2 separate regions of the Homo sapiens genome follow, and region 1 is linked to region 2. The links come from fine-mapping of genetic effects on gene expression. A gene starts in region 2. The other region holds a variant in brackets. All regions are shown on one strand. Distances are between the middles of the regions. Region 1 overlaps DLD (dihydrolipoamide dehydrogenase). Region 2 holds the start of CBLL1 (Cbl proto-oncogene like 1).

Region 1 (9,707 bases), 180 kb before region 2:
GAACCCAGAACCTGTTAACTTCGGTAGGCATACACAATCATTACATGAATGGGAACACACCTACATATACACTTACCAGAAAAGTACATTTGTTATCTATGAACAGAAATTCTTACAACTCAACATTAAAGGATTCCTTTAATAAATCTAAACTACTCCGTTAGCATGGATGCTAAAAATAAGTGGAGATAGGTTTTCAAGGAATAAAAGGACTCTGATTCAGACACTGGACCATTACGTCCCATCTCATTTTCTCCCCCACAAAGTCTGAGAAAGATAAAAACTTCTATTCTTGGGCGGGCATGGTGGCTCACGCCTGTAATTCCAGCATTTTGGGAGGCCGAGGTGGGTGGGTCATTTGAGGTCAGTAGTTCAAGACCAGCGTGGCCAACATGGCAAAACCCCTTCTCTACTAAAGATACAAAAGTTAGCTGGGCATAGTGGTGTGTGCCTGTAGTCCCAGCTACCTGGGAGGCTAAGGCAGGAGAATTGCTTGAACCGGGGAGGTCGAGGTTGCAATGAGCTGAGATCACACCACTGTACTCCAGTCTGGGCAACAGAGACTCCATCTCAAAAAAAAAAAAAGCACTCCTATTCATTGAGGAAACAGCATATACTCTGTTCAGTAGTATGAAGTATAATAATTTTAGAAAACTGTCCTGATGTTATAAAGCAGCTTATCTGGTTAAGAAGGCCAATGTCTCAAGATTTTGGTCATCAAACATTTTACTATATAGTAGTTTTGGAAACTATGGGAGAACAGTCAGTCTGCTTTCAATACCCAATTCTAGAGAAACCTAATAGAGCACTTATAGCTAAACAATCTGTTCTGTTTAGAATGCATGGAAAACTTAATGTTTTTTATAAGAAATATACTGTGACTACCAGATATTAAAAGTACTCATTACGAATTTTTCATAGGGATCTAGCACCTTGCTCTAAAAATCCTCTTTATCTCTTAAAAGAAGTAATGCAAACATAATTCCATTAAATTCTTTTGTTTCTCAGAAAGTTAATGTTTTCGTTCCAATTTTACGAGTTTTTAAAAAATGAAGAAAATTGATGAGTTATCTAATCCCTATACAGGTTCTCAGAATATACTTTGAAATTAAATGCTCCCATACCCAGCATTGTCAGCCTTCTCAGGCCAATCCTCCATGTGTTTAAAACCTGGGAAGATGAATTTTCAACATGCTTTTCTTACCATTAGTTGGTAAAAACCTGTGTTCCCCTATTCTATTGCTGTCAGTTAAATGAAGGCCAATAATTCTGTCCATTTTCCTCCTTAAATTTCGAGTATCAATAAGACTTTTTCTTCAGGCTATTTGTTCAAGTTTAGAAAAATTATGTTTTCCCACCAGACTATAAATATTTTGATGTTTCGATCTCTAGGTTTTTCCATTTTCTCAGTTTGCTGTTAATATTTTAGTGAATATTATGTCAGTGACTGTAGAAATTATTGTTTTGAAAGCCAGGTGCAGCAGTGTGTGCCTGTAGTCCCAGCCACTTGGGAGGTGGAGGTGAGAGGATCACTTAAGGCCAAGAGTTTGAGACTATAGTGCACTATGATCATGCCTGTAAACAAACAGTCACTGCACTCCAGCCTGGGAAATATAGCAAGACCCTGTTTCTTGAAAAAAATTGTTCTGAAAAGCAAATTAGAAAATACTGAATTATAGGTGAGATGTGGCTTGATGATGCAAGTTAATAATTGGGGTTCTGTTTTTCAGGGGCCCTAGGGGGCAGGAAGTGTTTTAGGTTAGTAACAATAAGAAACAAAGAGAACCTCTAACTAAACTGTGTTCATGAAAGCTTATCAGAAACAATTCACTCAAACTTTATCTTCTAAGAATTATAATTTCTAAGAATTTTATTCTAATTAAAGGGTCCTTAGGTTTGAAATATTTACAAATTTTAGCCTATGTCTTATACTGACCCTTATTAACTTCATTATAGCAGTACTGTTATTCAGTTAATTCTATGTAATTAGACCCATCCTTGAAGATCATTTTAAAGAAAAATTGAGTGCTCAGTGAAATTGATTCTTTTGTCATGGGCTCAACTGCTTACTTTGGCTAGCTTTTAAAAGTCAATGTTTATTGATTCTACTTTGAAAGGAGATCAGATGTGGATCCTCACCAGTTGCCCAGATATTTTTTTTTCCCTAAATAACTTTGTGTATTTAGAGTTTACAGCTGTAACGTTCCCAGACCATACATCATCTCACAATTCTATAGAAATTCAAAGAACATCCCTAGTCTCCATGTCTTCAGTAATTAGCTGAAATCTCCACTACTAGAGTTTAACATTTATTTTCCCACTCACATTAAGTTGGAAATTTATGTGGAAATCCCTCTTCGCACAGCTGCTTATTTGTGAATGTTCTTTAGCCAAAGTTTGCAGGTGTCCTTAAAATGCTTTCTCAACACATCATGCTCCTTGGGGAGGTGGGGTTTTTTGTTTTTTTTTACTGTCAGAAAAAATTTTACATCAATCTCAGCTTAGATCATCAGAAGTACTGAAAGAATGAAGTGAATATATGAAATGTAGCAAAGACTAAAGTTAGATACTTCATGTAACTTTTCCTGAAATATTCTTTTTAGTAATTACTTCTTTTGGTCTAGAGCAAAATGGCACAGCAGACTTTTAAATCTTCCTCCAAACTTGTACTCATAGTAATTCCATTTCTTAAACTAATGTCTTGCTGGAAAATTGACATGCTTTTAGATTGAGTCTGAAACAGCAGCTTCTGAGGAAACCTTGTTCAACGCGTCCCAGCGCATCAGCGAGTTAGAGAGGAATGTGGAAGAACTTAAGCGGAAAGCTGCCCAAAACTCCGGGGAGGCAGAATATATTGAAAAAGTAGTATATACTGTGAAGCAAAGTGCAGAAGATGTTAAGAAGGTACGTAAATCTTTGTAATTTCAGAGCTATGTTGTTAAAGGAGCCACCAGTCTCCTCCTTGCCTGCCTTAGAGTAAGGGACATGGACCTAACAGAAACAGAATTCATCAGAAATATCAAATGACCTGTTTTGCAACAGCCGTCTTTAGAAGTGTGGATGGGAAAGAATATGGAAATATCTAATAAGTATGACCTATGTCCTCAAATCCAAATTTGGACAAGAGTTTAGAAGAACGGAATTAACTTAGGGGTAGAAGTCTCAAAACAGGCTTTTTTTTTTTTTTTAAACCAACTATATTGACAAAAACCAGTCATATTGAACTTTTATTTCTGTGCGGTAGTCAGTTAAATTCTTCATGGCATATAGTAATTATCAGGCCATTTGAGAATATTTTACAAGCAGGTTGGAACAGAGAACAGGTAGTAGGAAACCAAATCTTATCTCTTTGAGACTCATTTTGAATTAACTACCCCTCACCTCTCATTCGAAGGCACTATATTTTGCAGAGAAAAACTCACACAACCCAAATGTTTAATCAGAAGCCATGTAATAACTGAAACACATGTTCAGTTTCTCAATAATGCTTATTTCTAAAGAGAACATTAAAAACTTGGTGGCGCCGGGGTGGGGCTTAAAACCATTGAATCACTGGTCCCCAACTTTTTTGGCACCAAGGACCAGTTTCCTGGAAGACAATTTTTCCAGACTCGGGGGTGGGGATGGTTTCAGGATGAAACTGTTCCAGCTCAGATCAGGCATTAGATTCCATAAGGAGTGCACAACCTAGATCCCTTGCATGCAC[A/G]GTTCCCAATAGGATTCGTGCTCCTATGAGAATCTAATGTCACCACTGATCTGACAGAAGGTGGAGCTCAGGCAATAATACTTGCCTGCCCACCCAGTTCCTAACTGGTCCGTAGGCCTGGGGGCACCTGCATTTACTGACCTAATTTCAGTATTTAACTCCCTACTATTCAAAAATTTTCTGGAAGTTACTGTAGCTTTTCGGGCATTACGTAAGAGTAACTTTCCCTACCTCTCTCTAGGTTGGGAAAGAGAACAAAACAATGAGAAAAGTTCACTGCCACAATATCAGACAGCTGTCTTTTCTGTTTTGGTTTGTGTGGTTTCCTGCAGTACTGAGGACACAAATTTCTCAAGTACTCTGCTTCAGGGCATTTTGCATAATGACATTTTATCACAAGAGAAAGGAACAAAATCTCTTGAAATGAAATTTCCATAAATGGCTATTTGAACAGTTTCTAAAAAGAATCATTTGCATTCCAACCCCACACCCCATTTCTCTTCTCCTCACTCACTTCTTGCATATGCTACAATCTCACCTTTCCTTCCTGTATCTTTTGTTTAATCTTTTTCCTCTGATTTCCTTATAAGCAAGTCTTCACAAATCCTAATTTAGTCAAGATCCAAAGAGCCTCCACTTCTTCAATATGGGCTTCTCTAATGTCTAATCTACTTTTGAAAAATCTGCGCTTCTCTATGTAATTTGCAATACAATTATGCTACAACTTTTCTATAGAAAAGTAATAATCAGGAGAATGAGGACTTAGCCCTAAGGATTTGCTGCAACTCCAGAATTTTTTGAAATGTTCTTTAAAATCATGTCAATTTTGCATTCAATTCCACTGTTTGAAGATAAAATTTTAAATTACTTACCAGTGAATATCCTTGGTGGCCCTTAATCCAGAATGCATGCCATGATTACACTATTGCTCTTAAATGTAATTACTGACACTAACATTACCACTTCTTTCTGTCTAAATGTGGAACTATAGACTTTAGATGGTGAACTTGATGAAAAGTATAAAAAAGTAGAAAATTTAATTGCCAAAAAAACTGAAGAGTCAGCTGATGCCAGAAGGAAAGCCGAAATGCTACAAAATGAAGCAAAAACTCTTTTAGCTCAAGCAAATAGCAAGCTGCAACTGCTCAAAGGTGGGTCTTTTCACACAGGCTTATTTTTTAAATTACTTTAAGGCATCCATAGTTTATTTAAAAGTGAAAAATATATTCACTTTGTCTTGAGATCATCATAGTATAAATTGCTCAGACTTTATATATATATATCTCCCCACAGATTTAGAAAGAAAATATGAAGACAATCAAAGATACTTAGAAGATAAAGCTCAAGAATTAGCAAGACTGGAAGGAGAAGTCCGTTCACTCCTAAAGGATATAAGCCAGAAAGTTGCTGTGTATAGCACATGCTTGTAACAGAGGAGAATAAAAAATGGCTGAGGTGAACAAGGTAAAACAACTACATTTTAAAAACTGACTTAATGCTCTTCAAAATAAAACATCACCTATTTAATGTTTTTAATCACATTTTGTATGGAGTTAAATAAAGTACAGTGCTTTTGTATATATTTTGGTGTACTTGTTACTTTCACTGATTGTTGATGAATCCCTTTTTTCACTGTAAACGTGGATTTATAAACAAGTTTACTGCGTCCATGAAGACCCTAATTTATGTTGTCTATAAACAAGCTATTATATTTATTTGACAGGTAAACATCCTCCAAAACTCCACACCCTTGACTCCCCTCCTCCCAATCACCTCCCAGTGGGATTCCCAGGTTGAGGTTAAGGAGGACAAATATAGTCTATGCTACCATCACTATTTCAATGGTTGCTGAGTTGCTCCAGCCATCAAAACTCCTGTAAGTAAGTATTCCTTGCTCTAGGAATGAGAAAAAGCAACATTTTAGAAAATCAGCAGGATGTACTAGGGTTTGTAGTCATTACCACCTAGAAAAGGACTAGGGTTACTGAGGGGAAGGTTTCAGTTAAATCAGGCCAGAGTTTATGGATACTGCTCCTGCCAATTGAGCAATGCTACTACAGAGCACGGAATGATGCTCTAATTTCTCAGCTTTTGTATTGTATTTTATACTACAGAGCACAGAATGATGCTCTAATTTCTCAGCTTTTGTATTGTATTTTATGTGATTTTGCAACTAATCTAACGAAAGTAATTGCCAGGCCCATGTCAACTTTATTGCCTAACTAGCTGTATAAAAGGCTAGCCCCTATGTGTTTTTTTCACACATTCTTAGAGCAAGACTATTCTGTGGACTGCTTAACAACCACCCACACATCCAACACAGCTGCATCTGAAGCTGGGCCTGGACAACAGTTATGTAAACAGCTGTAAGTTAATAACTTTCCTCTGGCCCAAAGCAATAATTTGTCACTTTTATGGTACTGTTACCAAAACAGATATATAGACCAATGGAACAGAACAGAGGTCTCAGAAATAACACCACACATCTACAACAATCTGATCTTTGACAAACCTGACACAAGCAGTAGGGAAAGGATTCCCTATTTAATAAATGGTGTTGGGAAAACTGGCTAGCCATATGCAGAAAGCTGAAACTGGATCCCTTCCTTACACCTTATACAAACATTAACTCAAGATGGATTGAAGACTTAAACGTAAGACCTAAAACCATAAAAACCCTAGGCAATTACCATTCAGGACATAGGCATGGGCAAAGACTTCATGACTGAAACACCAAAAGCAATGGCAACAAAAGCCAAAATTGACAAACGGGATCTAATTAAAGAGCTTCTGCACAGCAAAAGAAACTATCATCAGAGTGAACAGGCAACCTAGAGAATGGGAGAAAATTTTTGCAAAGAACTTCAAACCCATCAAAAAGTTGGTGAAGGATATGAACAGACACTTCTCAAAAGAAGACATGCATGCAGCCAACAAACATGAAAAAAAGCTCATCATCACTGTTCAATAGAGAAATGCAAATCAAAACCACAATGAGATACCATCTCATGCCAGTTAGAATGACAATCATTAAAAAGTCAGCAAACAACAGATGCTGGAGAGGCTGTGGAGAAATAGGAACACTTTTACACTGTTAGTGGGAGTGTAAATTAGTTCAACCATTGTGGAAGACAGTGTGGCAATTCCTCAAGGATCTAGAACTAGAAATACCATTTGACCCAGCAATGCTATTACTGGGTATATACCCGAAGGATTATAAATCATTCTACTATAAAGACACATGCACATGTATGTTTATTGAGGCACTGTTCACAATAGCAAAGACTTGGAACCAACCCAAATGCCCATCTATGACAGAATGGATAAAGAAAATGTGGCACATATACACCATGGAATACTATGCAGCCATAATAAAGGATGAGTTCACATCCTTTGCAGGGACATGGATGAAGCTGGAAACCATCGTTCTCAGCAAACTAACACAAAAATAGAAAACCAAACACCACATGTTCTCACTTGTAAGTGGGAGGTGAACAATGAAAACACATGGACAAGGGGATGGGGGTGGGGGAGGGATAGCATTAAGAGAAATACCTAATGTAGATGATGGGTTGATGGGTGCAGCAAACCACCATGGCACATGTATACCTATGTAACAAACCTGCATGTTCTGCACATGTACCCCAGAACTTAATTAAAAAAAAAAATCCCAATAACTAGCAAAAATGGTCATACCCCATCATCTACTAGAGCAATTATGTAGTATTTTACTTAGAACAGTAGAAACACTCTCCATTCCTTTTCAGCTAAACAACTAAAGATCTCACTTTGAAATTACTTTTTTTTTTTTTTTGAGACGGAGTTTCGCTCTGTCGCCAGGCTAGAATGCAGTGGCATGATCTCAGCTCACCGCCTCCTGGGTTCAAGTGATTCTGCCTCAGCCTCCTGAGTAGTTGGGATTACAGGGGCCTGCCACCACACCTGGCTAATTTTTATATTTTTAGTAGAGATGGGGTTTTACCACATTGGTCAGGTTGGTCTCAAACTCCTGACCGCAGGTGATCTGCCCGCCCCGGCCTCCCAAAGTGCTGGGATTACAGGAGTGAGCCACCGCTCCCAGCCAGTTGAAATTACTAATTTTAATCAGTTCAATGAAGTGGACAATTAATTTCACTCTTCACAAGCCACAAAAATATTGACAGCTTAGTAGATAACAGTAAGTGAACACTTAAAACTTGTTTTATTCCTAGGACTTTATTCCCCATACAGATAAATTTGCATTCTCATACTGAATGTAAACACTTAAAGATGGATTTAACTCTACAGCTAGAATTCCATATTAAATTATATTTCACTATTCCCTAACTAAAAACTTTTTTTTCCCTGAGTAAGGGATATGTTGAGATTTACATAAACAGCACTTCACATGATACCGGGATTTCAAATTTTTAAAAAGATGCAGAGTTCACTTCCAATAATGGCAAAGTAGCACACAGATATCAGACCAACCCTCCTGCTGATAGCAACTGCAAACTCTGAACAAATATATTTTAGAAAAAACTAAAGGCACTGGAAACAACTATAAACAAGTGGAAAGTAGAGGGAAGTTGGCACTTAAAAAGTGAACAGCACTGGCTCAATGTCTCATTTTTAACGGGTTCTCACTTGAGGGGGAAACAAAAGCCAAGTTTTATTGGTTAAGGATCAGAAGGCAGAATATGGGGCAACCACAACAGCTGGAACATAAAGGGGAAACCCCCAAAAAACAGGAGGCACAGAAGGGGCAGACTTCCTTCTGCCCAAACTCTGGTTGACCCCTGAACTACACACTTGCATGGGAAAGACTTCCAGCAGCATAGCTAAAGCTAAAACAACTGAGAAGAGATTTCAGCTGCTGCCACCTACAAACAAGACAGAGTGTGGAGTTGGTGTTCAGCCAAGTTAACTGCCTCCTAAGACAACAATCAATTTTCTTTAGAAGTATGTAACAGAATCCAGGGTCATTATGTCACTCATGAGCATGAGACAATCTATGCTATCTATACCAAATTTCAGAACTACTTAATCTGAATTATTCTTAAATTTAGTTACAATATGCAAAAGCCTACTTAGCATTTAGTACTTTGTTACTTAAGTTTCCTCAGGACATGGCCATTTTAAACACCACACATCCAATTTTACAACACTCTTTAAATAAACAGTCATTAACCCAGCCAAGGAAAACACAGATTAAAGACTCCCTTATGTTGTACTTCTCCAAAAGTATATATTAAACATTTAGTAGGTGTATCTAAAATAGATGAAAGGATGATGACCTTTAAAATGCCTTAATATTGTCCTATAACATGAAAATAAAGATACATTCAGGCCTAGAAAAGAAATTAGAATATACACTAGAAGTAGTCATAAAAAAAACTATGACCATCTCAACACGTACTCATGATAACCAGTAAATGAATATTTAAGACGTTTATTTCAGTATCTTCATTCCCCACTGTAATACATTTGAATGCCCACGTATTTGAGTTCCGTAAATAGACTCTCTTAATTTGGGTAACTATATAATTACCCTTCAGAGTTGCAGACAACAATGGAAGCTTTAAAACCTCTTCAACACAAATGCTACCCCTAAAATGAAAGAATTTAGAGGTTAAATAAAACAAGTGAGAGACCGTTTACTTACATCAGTTCGGTTTATAGACATTTGAATCATATCTGAATGACTGACTTGTTTCCAATGTGAAAACCAAATTAAAAATAACTTGATCACTGTGCTTCAAACACAACTGTTCACATATCAAATTCTAGCTCCAGCCATGTAAAATTCAACTTTTCTGTATCAGAGAAAAAAGCTATTTAAATTCAGGGGCATTGAATCTTTCATGAACAGCATGAAAATATGAGTTGACGGAGATATTCCAGGATGCTACAATAAGTAGCTTTTTGTCTTACACATTAGTGCACTGAAACAAAATACTAAATTTATGTAAAATATAGATATAAGAGTATTCCATTTTGTCCAAACCTATTAAATACCTTC
Region 2 (9,828 bases):
ATGCAAAGCAGAAAATAAATTTAGTAAACTGAACTTACTAATACTGATGAAGGCAAAATTAAACAATGCGTTTGAAAATGAAGTTAAGAAATGTGATTATTCCTTAAGCGCAAAATAATTATTCTAAAAATCATTCAGAAATATAGTAAAAATCATTATACCATTTAGTAGTAAAAACATGCAATAATGTATTTGTGCTATAACATGTGACTGAGTTCTTAGTCAGCACTGTAATGGAAAATTATAATTTAAGAGGATGCAAAGTTCCTATACTACAACTAGGTCTAAACAAGTGTCACTTTCTAGTCCCTGGAGTCTTTGCTTGTTATTGTCTATAGAATAAATTAATTCTTGTCCCATGAGTAACAGGAGTATTATTTCATAGAACTGACTCCATCTAAAGCTTAAGAGTTACCTTTTTTCAAGTAGATGAAAATATATAATACAGAAAATATTTAACTTGACCTACTAAAGAAGGAAAATGCTTAAAATAGGAAATACAAATAACGTATTTTTTAATTTGTAGTGTTTTAAACATGACAAGTTATTGAACAAGGTTGTATAACTGCCCCTGCAGGAAATATTACAGTCAAGACTGATAGCCAAACCATCCACATTAAATTCAGCAAAGCCAAATTTGGAAGTAGTAAGCTAGTACCAATGGCCTCCAAGGCTACTAGGATTACAGACACACAATAAGTTCACATTCATTTGCACTTTTTCTGAACAAAATACCAAACAAAATTAAAAATGGGTCCATAACGATTATTTTAATCTACTTACTACTCTTATAACAGCTAATCCTAAAACAAAGAGGGGTGGAATTACATGGTTAGCTAGAATCTTGAGTTAGGGTTAACCCAACTTGATCAGCTTTCAACACTTCATTAAATAGACTCACAAGCTGATTAATGTATTTGATCTGTTTTCATTGTAGTTGCTTATGTATGTAAAAGTACTTACAAGCAATGCATTGGCCAAAAGAAATATGAATGACTTTTTTCCTTGCTCAAAAAGTATTCCTGACATTCCAATGAACTAAAAAGCAAGTCGTTGTAGACATATAATCAGTTCAATGCTGTCCCTCAAATATTAAATATTCAAATATCAAAATGGTTTAATCGTTTTACCTTTGTGAATAATGAAAATACCAACACTTCATTACAAGTCCTTTTCACACCATCCTGAACACTTGAGGTCTCTACTGTTGCTTGCATAGTCTACCACTTTCAAGAGCTGGCTGGCCCTTCCCACTCTGCTTCACAGATTCAAGTTCATGAGGTACAGCATTTAATAATGATAACATTCTGGGTTTCTTTGGGACTTTTTTGCTTTTTGTTGTTTTTAAATTAAGAATCAGAGCATAAAGCACTATTTCCTTTTGAATACAGTAACAAATTATAAAGTCCTTAACAACAAAAATTTCTTAGATATTACATAGAAAGTGACTAAGGACTACTGGCCACTTCAGATAAATTCACTTTAAAAAGGCACAACACTTCCATATCATATAGTTTAAAAAAGATTGGGGATTTTTTATCTTGAATAAAAAGAACCAATAAATATTTTACAAAATCTGGGATCTTTTACAAAATCTGGGATACAGTTACAGAAGTGCTAATTCTTAGAATGACCAAAGAATAAATCCAGTGTTAATGGGGAGCCCCTTGGAGTAATTTTTCTGGCAAGATTCTATTAGAACACCTTCATTTTCACATTTGAATGTTTCGGTATGATCATAAAATGGGTCATTTTTGCATAATGTTCAAGGGTTTCATCTGTTTCCCCAAGGACCTCTTAATCCTTTAATATTACAATTATTCTTTTGAGATGCCTATCCTGTCATGATTCTTCAATTATCTAGCTAAGTGGCATTTCCTCATTTGTCAAAGCCTTTGTGATTTAAACAATTATCAAATTCATGTTTACGAATTTCATGAAAACCAGAATCTTCTACAAGGTTTATAATTTTATTTCACAATCAGTGCACAGTATTTGATACTGTCTTCTGATACTAAACATCAAAGAGATTGATTCATTTAAAAAAAATAAAATAGGTAAGAAGCTAGTGTTAAGCAGAAGGGACATCTGAGAGGGAACTAATTTTTTAAGTGGTCAGCTCATTCGTGAGTATTTTCATGTTAAGATGAGTTTTACTTCCTTAGGCAATCTCTAAACTTCAAGAATTAAGATAATAAACACTCTTTACACTCACCCCTATTATGATTTCCTAACATAATAGCCTCTAAACTATGGCAGGAACTTGACTCATAATTCCAGTAGTGGGCTCAAATAAGAATTACTTTCCTAAAGTTGAATGTTTGCTATTCTAACATCAAAATCCCAGTTTCAACTCTATAAATTCCCAAACACTGGAATTCTTTACAGCCTCGTTCTAGGCCGGCTTCTCCTCTGAACACACCCTTCTTAAGTGGTCTCATCTGTCCTCATGCTTTAAAATACCAGCTATAAATAAAGGTACTAACTTCCAAATACGTATTTTCAGTGCAGATCTTTCCTCTCATCTCCACTTGGCATCTCTCCTGTGTCTCAGTAGTTATCTCACACTAGCAGTCCAAGACCAAACACTTGTTCCCAAATTCCCGTCTCACCTCTACAAAAAAAGATTGTTTTCTGCCCCAAGTTTTCCTCAGCTCAATAATGGACCCTACCTAGTTGCTCAAACCAAAAGCCTAGGCATTTCTCCTTTCTCTCACATTCCTTCAAACACCACCAGAGTATTTACTGAAGCTGCCCATTCTCCTTCATTTTCACCAAACCAACCTTCCCTTCCCGTCTACTGCAATCAGCTATTTTCCATCATTCTTACCTCCCTCTCTTACACCATTCTTCATAGAACAGCCTATTGTATTTTTTAAGAGACTGTGTTCCTCCTCCACTTCTGTTCAATGGCTTCATATTCACTTAAATTAAAATTCAAACGTTTACCACGGCTTTCAATGACCTGAATGATGTGCCTGCTGCCCTCCTTTCCAATCTCACTTCAGGACTCCTACCCTCTGGCTATTAGGAGGCTGCAGCTGACTTCACTGTATCTTCCTACCTCAGTGCCTTCGCACTTGCTGGAAATGCTCTTCCTCTTGCTTTTTTCCCAGGGCTGGGTTCTTCTCATCCATCAGATCTTAGCTTCCACAAAGACCATTCCTAACAACCCTCTCTGAAATTTCGTCCTATGAATCTCTCCACAGCACTCGTTTATTTTCTTCAAAATAATCCGCAAACATTAAAAAAATAATAAATTTAAAAAAAAAGAACGTATTGTCTGTGTTCCTCCATAAAACAGAAGTTCTATCACGGACCTGGTCCGTCTCGTTTACCATTCCATCTTCCATCTCCCGACCTATAGATATCTGCATGTATCTTGCATAAATAAACATACACACCTACATAAATAAACATACACACCTAATTATATAACCAAGTAGATATCTGATGAGTGAGGACAACTCAATACTCAAGAAAAAGCCTTTTTTTCTCTATTTGTGATACGGTCGCTATAAATGTATGGGGCACATAACTCCAAGAGCACTCATTCAATATCCAAGAACCACAAAGAAGCAAAAGCCAGAAAATACATAACAAAGGGTGGAGCCACTCTTACTTGGAGAAAAGTATGAGAATGCCTTGATTTTAAACTCCTCTTTGTAAATACCCTCAAATGATGAGTAAGGACCTCAGCCGAAGCGCGGGGCATGCTTTTGGTTTAGGTAGAAAAACTGCTCCGAGTTTGATTCCAAAAACTCTATCAGACTCCCTTCTTTCACCCCTCTAGTCCATAAAGGATCGGAGAGACGACAGGGGGTGACCACTGCAGCACCCGCCCAAAGCTGACTGAGACAGCAGGAAGTCTCCAACCCATTCTCGCCCGTCCACTCCCAGCGTAAAGAGGATTCCGCGACTCGGAGACCGCAATCTACCCGCCAGTCTCCATAACGTAGGCCAGAGCAGCTGGGCTAAATAAAACAGAGCCGGGGCTCTCCCTTCCCGAAGGCCTACATCGCCCACTGGTCCGGGCTCGGAGCTCAGCAGAACCAGAGTAGGAGCGGTTGTTGCCGGCACGGAGGAGGTAGGTACCACACCAGACGGTAGGCCAGGAAACCGCAGGCCCCTGCCGGGCACAGGAAGGCATCTGTGAGATTTCTTCTCACTGCCACACCCTAGTGTTGTGGGGCGAGCATAATCCCTTTTGCCTGCTGTGCGACCAGCCCCAGGCCGGCCAAGGGGGCTTGGAACCGGGACCCCCACTGCCTCCGCCTCCTTACCAGTGTGATCCATGATTCGGCTCGCAGAGCACAGTGGGAGCGGAAGTCAACCGCGCCGGAGTCGCAGCGAGCGCGTGCGCACTGCCTTCCGGAGGCCGGGAGGCGGAAGTCCAAGCAGGTTGTCCCAATTTTGGCCTGCAAAGACTTCCTTCTCTCGCCTCTACTATCCAACTCCTGTGAGGGACTCAGGCATAGTTCGGGCGGAGGCAGAAAGAGCGAGCGCGCGAAGAACTTCGGTATTGAGGTTGCTAAGGCTTCTCCTCATGTGCTTCAAGAGAAAGTAGCCTTTAACTGTGGAAAGGACACCAGGGGGACCGGGGAAGGGGAGAGCAGTGGTAAAAATGAGCCAGAAGCAGATAAGGCGACTGCCCGCCCCGCGGAGAGCTGCCTTCTGGGACTTGTAGTGCGCGGGGCCCCCGGAGCCGGCTGGCTGCGCAGGCTCGGCCGTTGCGCTGGCCCCACCCCGGCGGGCGGAGTAACGGTTTGGAATCCCCCGGGGTCAGCGAGCGCTTGTTTCCTCCGCCTGGTGTAGCAAAAGTGTAAACACGCGCGCTCCGGAAGGCGCCCTCCAGTGGGAGGTTGCTCAGGGGATGGCGGAGCTGTGAAACTCGGAGCTAGAAGGAAAGTCTCAACGCTTGTCTAAATTTTGCTTTGTCGTGACGAGCTACCTAGACCCACGCAGAGCTAACTTGGTATATGCCCCGGTTCCCATCTCTTAAGTCTCTTTACAGTTGAAACACGTTTATAATGCTTGACTGCCACTCACTTTCTAGGGAGAGCGCTTGTGACGCTACGAACCTCTCGAACACCTGACGACTGGGCGCCAGGGCCGGATGGAGGGTGGAGAGCCAGTGCGGCGCAGCTGCCTCCTCTTAACGGGGACACCTTGCAGGAATGTGCGGAGTGGAGCTAACGGGAGCGGATAGAAACCGAGGGAGGGGAAGAGAGCGCGAAGGCTTGGCCGGAAGGAGAGGTTAAAAAGGAAAGGCCTAAAATGAGGAAGAGAGTTACCACAACAAGCAGTACCTAGTTCCAGTTCTTGGTCCCAGGAGTTTGTGGTTGTTGCTGCTTTCATCTTCCTCAGCCAACACAAAAGGAAAGTGCCAAGGGGCGATTCCTAGGACCTTCAGTGCAGTCTCCACCTTGCGGACTTGGCTCATTTGTGTCCACTCCTTTCTCCAGCCTTTTACACTTGATGCTCTTGGATGAATAGAAAGGAGCACAATTAATGGAAAACACAAGCTTGGGAGTCAAGGGATTTGGGTTCTATTCTTGTCCTCCCTTGGTGACGACATCATTACCTTGGGTTATTCAAGCTTTCAGTGCCAGAGTTCCTATATCAATAAAAGATTATTACATTGACCTCTTAGAGAAATGTTTTCATGGTACTGAATTGCAAATAAAGTATGTGTAGCGATGTGTTATATCTTTGTAGTTGTACGGTATTATTTGTGAATCATGCTGTGATGATCAGTGCGATTTAAGTGCACCATGTTATTTGGTGATTATTTTCCTGAGATCTTGTAAAAGATTTTTCTGCTCTATATATGCAGCTTTATAAACAAGTTTTTAGGTACATTCACAACTAAGGACATTTGTGAATCAAAATTACCCCTGCTTTTTTTAAATGTAAAGTTCTGTATTGCTAGGTGGTTTTCAAGATGCTTTCAGTTTCTGGGATTATTGTTTTGGGCATTGGGGCTTGCCTAACCTTTTTCCCATACCTCCCTATTTTTCTAAATACAGTGTTGATATAGTCAGGCATTTTTCACCAATTTGGGTTTTTTTTTTTTTTTTAAGTTTTCACTTAGAAAGTACTTCTTTTTCATATTAAAAAAATTTTTTTTAGAGATGGGGCAGCCCAAACTGGAACACAATGGCAGAATCATAGCTCACTGCATCCTTGGACTCCCGGGCTCAAGGGGTCCTTATGCCTCAGCCTCCGGAGTAGTTGGGACTACAGATGCTCATCACCACCACTGGCTTTGATTTTTTTGTTCTATCATACTTAGCCTATCAGCTAACGGTTAACCTTCAGATTCATGGAAATCCAGGTTCAGAATAGTATTATTAATGTCTGCTGATGCTAATATTTAAATAATTAGAATTAAAAAGAGCTTTCAAATTGTATTTTATATAATTTAACCTGTAAGTTAGAAGTTTTGTTGGCATTTTATGGTGCATCAAGAAAATTTACTGAGAGAAGATGTACTTACTTTAGATCTGATAAAATGTTAAACATTTGTTTGATTTGATTTGACATCTCTTACTTTCAGGCATTGCTTTAGCATCTGTGGTCTGTATTTACCCCCTTAATTGTGGTTGCCTTGAATTACCAATGCAGTAGCAGTGTGATAAATTAATTTCTTTACCTATGTTTTATTACTGCCCTCTAGTATCTCTTTTCAGCGACCAGCGTGCTGTAACCAGTCACAATTTCTTTATCAAGAGTTGCCATTAATATTTATTTATAGAGCATAAGGTTTATATTGCTTATATATAAGCTATATATAGTTTAGGTGCTGACCTAAGGTTTATAAAAGTGAAAACTTACTGTAATGGGCAGTCTGAAGCACTGAGGTGCACCTTTTTATCTTACTGGCAAGACCATCTACTACCTATGAATTATAAGGTAGTGGTCTCCAAGATGTTTTGATAGCCTCCCATTTACATAGTTACTGTTTATGCTATGAGAAAAGTAAGAGGGGTATCAGAGAGCTTGTTTTCCCCAATAGCCTGTTACGGACTCCTCAGTACCAAGTAAGGACAAAAACCTTCATCTCCTAACACTCTTTCAACTGTATCCCACTGAGTGCCTGCCTAGGACTGCATAAGGCAAAAGCTGTATAAATAATGGCCCCTACTTCAAGGATCCTACAGGATATCATTTTAAGAAATATGTGAAGATCTATATAATTTAGTTCTAAGTGTTGAGAGGAAATTCAGTGCTACTTACATTTAGATAAAGTAGTGGGACTGAGAGTAGTTAGGTTAGCTTTATGGAGGGATTTAAGCTGAGCCTTATGTGAATGGATAAAATTTGGAGAGGAGGAGAGCAATAAAAGGCATATCACACAGAGAAAAGCAAGGGCACAGATGTGAGAATTGTATGGTTTCTATAGAGGACAGTGAAGAGCTTTATTTGTACTGTTGATCCATGTTTGGGAGTTCTAAAAAAATAAGTTATTATGGAGCACCTTGAAAAAGTAAGATTTCAGAGTAACAGTAAAGAAATAGAGCATTTAACAAAACCCAGCATAATATATTCATAGAAACAATATAATCCAGCAAAATATATTCAAAAACAATGAGCAAATCTTAACTTGGGGTGGGGAGATGAATCAGTTGATGAACAATCAGTCAGAATTAAAGTGTAATACTATTACACCTAGACCAAGAACAATTGACCAGGAAGCCAGCGATACCTATGATAGCCAAAATGCCATGAAGTATGAATGAATTGTTAGTAAAAAAAAAAAAACGGATCCAGGTAGTGTCCAGTATATATTAATACGTTTGATAAGCAGAAATGGAAAAGGCAGTAAAATATCCTGGTTAGATATATGCCTTATCAAGCTATGGCAGCCAGCTTTTCAAACACCATGAAAAACTGGGCAAGAGGCAGATTCAGAGAATAAGAGGGAAATAGACTGTAAAAACAGAATGTTGCTGATTGAAGGCATTGTCCCGTTCCTGTCTCGAAGGAGATTCATTCTCGTTGAGGCCTGGCAATATATGTACTCATTTGAAAAGGAACCTTTTGATCTAGAGAGGTCCTGCAGCCTTCCTTCTTTTCTGAGAAGGAAAATTTTGTTGTGGATATCCTTTGAGCTGGATAGACCTGTCCCTCCCTACAGCTTCTTTGCTAATATAATTGCCTCCAGTTCACTCCTAAAAGAATGCTTAGGGTATTAAACTGCTCTGTAGTAAGCAATTAGTCTGTATATTGTTTCCTAAACTTAAGAAGGCTTTTGTTCAAGGGCCCCTGACCCTAACCTCAGCTGCCACTCCATGCCAGTTGAAAAAGGCTTTCAGCCTTCCTTGGTGCTATGGTTTGAATGAAGGTATTCCTCCAAAATTCATATGTTGGAACTTAAACCCCAAGGTGGTGATATTAAGAGGTGGGGCCTTTTGGGAAGTGATTTAGCTGTGAGGGCTTTGCTGTCATGAATGGTATTGCCGTTAGAGTCCTCAGAGAGCTGCCTGTGAGCCATGTGAGGACAGAGCATTCATCCCTTCCAGTATATAAGCAACAGGGTGCTCATCTCGGAAGCAGAGAACCCTCACAAGACACTAAATCTGCTGACACCTTGATCATGGACTTCCCAGCCTCCAGAACTGTAAGAAATAAATTTTTATTGTTTATAAATTACGCAGTCTCAGGTATTTTGTTACAGCAGTACAAACAGACTAAAACACCTGGTCCACTTGGTTTGTAAGTAGATCCTGTTACTGTTAAATAAATGTTTCTGTCAGAAATACATTCTACATCATAGTCCAGTACATAAACTCACAACACCTAAGCATATATGTAAGTGTCATGAAACTATACTTACCCTTTCTATATGCAGTTCTCTCTGCTATTTTTATTCTGTCCCTTTAAAAAAAATGTTGGTTATAATACACTAAAATAATGTCAAAGTGCACTAATTGGTTATAATTCAAGTTTGAAAACCACTGCTTTATAGCTCCCATGATGTTTTGAAGAGCTTTTTGTATTGGTCAGGGTTCTCTAGAGGGACAGAACTAATAGGATAGATAGATCCTATTATTATTAAATTATTAAATATCCTATTATTATTAAAGGGACTTTAAATATTAACTCACACAATCACAAGGTCTCACAATAGGCCATCTGTAAGCTGAGGAGGAAGGAGAGCCAGTCCAAGCCCCAAAACAAGAACTTGGAATCCGATGTTTGAGGGTAGGAAGCATCCAGCACGGGAGAAAGATCTAGGCTGGGAGGCTAGGCTAGTCTTGTCTTTTCACATTTTTCTGCCTGCTTTATATATTCTAACCACCCTGGCAGCTGATCAGATGGTGCCCACCCAGATTAAGTGTGGGTCTGCCTTTCCCAGCCCACTGACTCAAATGTTAATCTCCTTTGGCAACACCCTCACAGACACACCCAGGATCAATATTTTGCATCCTTCAATCAAGTTGACCCTCAGCACTAACCATCATAAGTCTACTACTTGTCAGCTTGAACCCATACACATCTCCTGAGATCACACATCATCTTCAAATAAAGACAATAATAAGGTCATAATTACATCTAACATAATAAAACCATCCTTTGTACAAACGGAAACGCACCAATCTCCTACCCAAATACTATTACATAAAGTTAATATTTAAATGCTGATGTGAAGTCAATAAATCTTATGTCACATGGTAACAGAAAAAGGAAATAAAATGGAGATATTTTCTTAGTACAAGTGTATACATGCACAAACATGTTTTTAACAAAAGAAGGAAGAAATACTCATGACAATTACAGTCCTTGTGTCTGCAGCTGGTCATGTGGTCGTAGCTGGTACTGATG

The links. PIP is the estimated chance that this variant, and not a neighbour inherited with it, causes the effect.
Region 1: its variant is fine-mapped to the expression of CBLL1 in whole blood (TOPMed, PIP above 0.99).

The regions. Positions count from the first base shown.
Region 1 is chr7:107,919,380-107,929,086 of GRCh38, reverse strand. DLD (dihydrolipoamide dehydrogenase) reads right to left here. Exons shown (of 14, transcript NM_000108.5): 14 at 7,889-9,707. It overlaps LAMB1 (laminin subunit beta 1), which reads left to right. Exons shown (of 34, transcript NM_002291.3): 31 at 1-23; 32 at 2,728-2,904; 33 at 4,698-4,857; 34 at 5,000-5,288. The coding sequence ends at 5,136. Among named protein-coding and RNA genes, the nearest start is that of DLD, 33 kb to the right of the region's middle. The variant A/G (reference allele first, on the strand shown) is at 3,707.
Region 2 is chr7:107,738,632-107,748,459 of GRCh38, reverse strand. It overlaps CBLL1 (Cbl proto-oncogene like 1), which reads right to left and starts at 4,318. Exons shown (of 6, transcript NM_024814.4): 1 at 4,284-4,318. The coding sequence starts at 4,296. CBLL1-AS1 (CBLL1 antisense RNA 1) reads left to right here and starts at 3,879. Exons shown (of 2, transcript NR_144537.1): 1 at 3,879-4,087; 2 at 5,057-5,707. RefSeq lists enhancers at 3,844-4,023, 4,374-4,593, 4,691-5,209, 5,210-5,729 and a silencer at 4,634-4,833.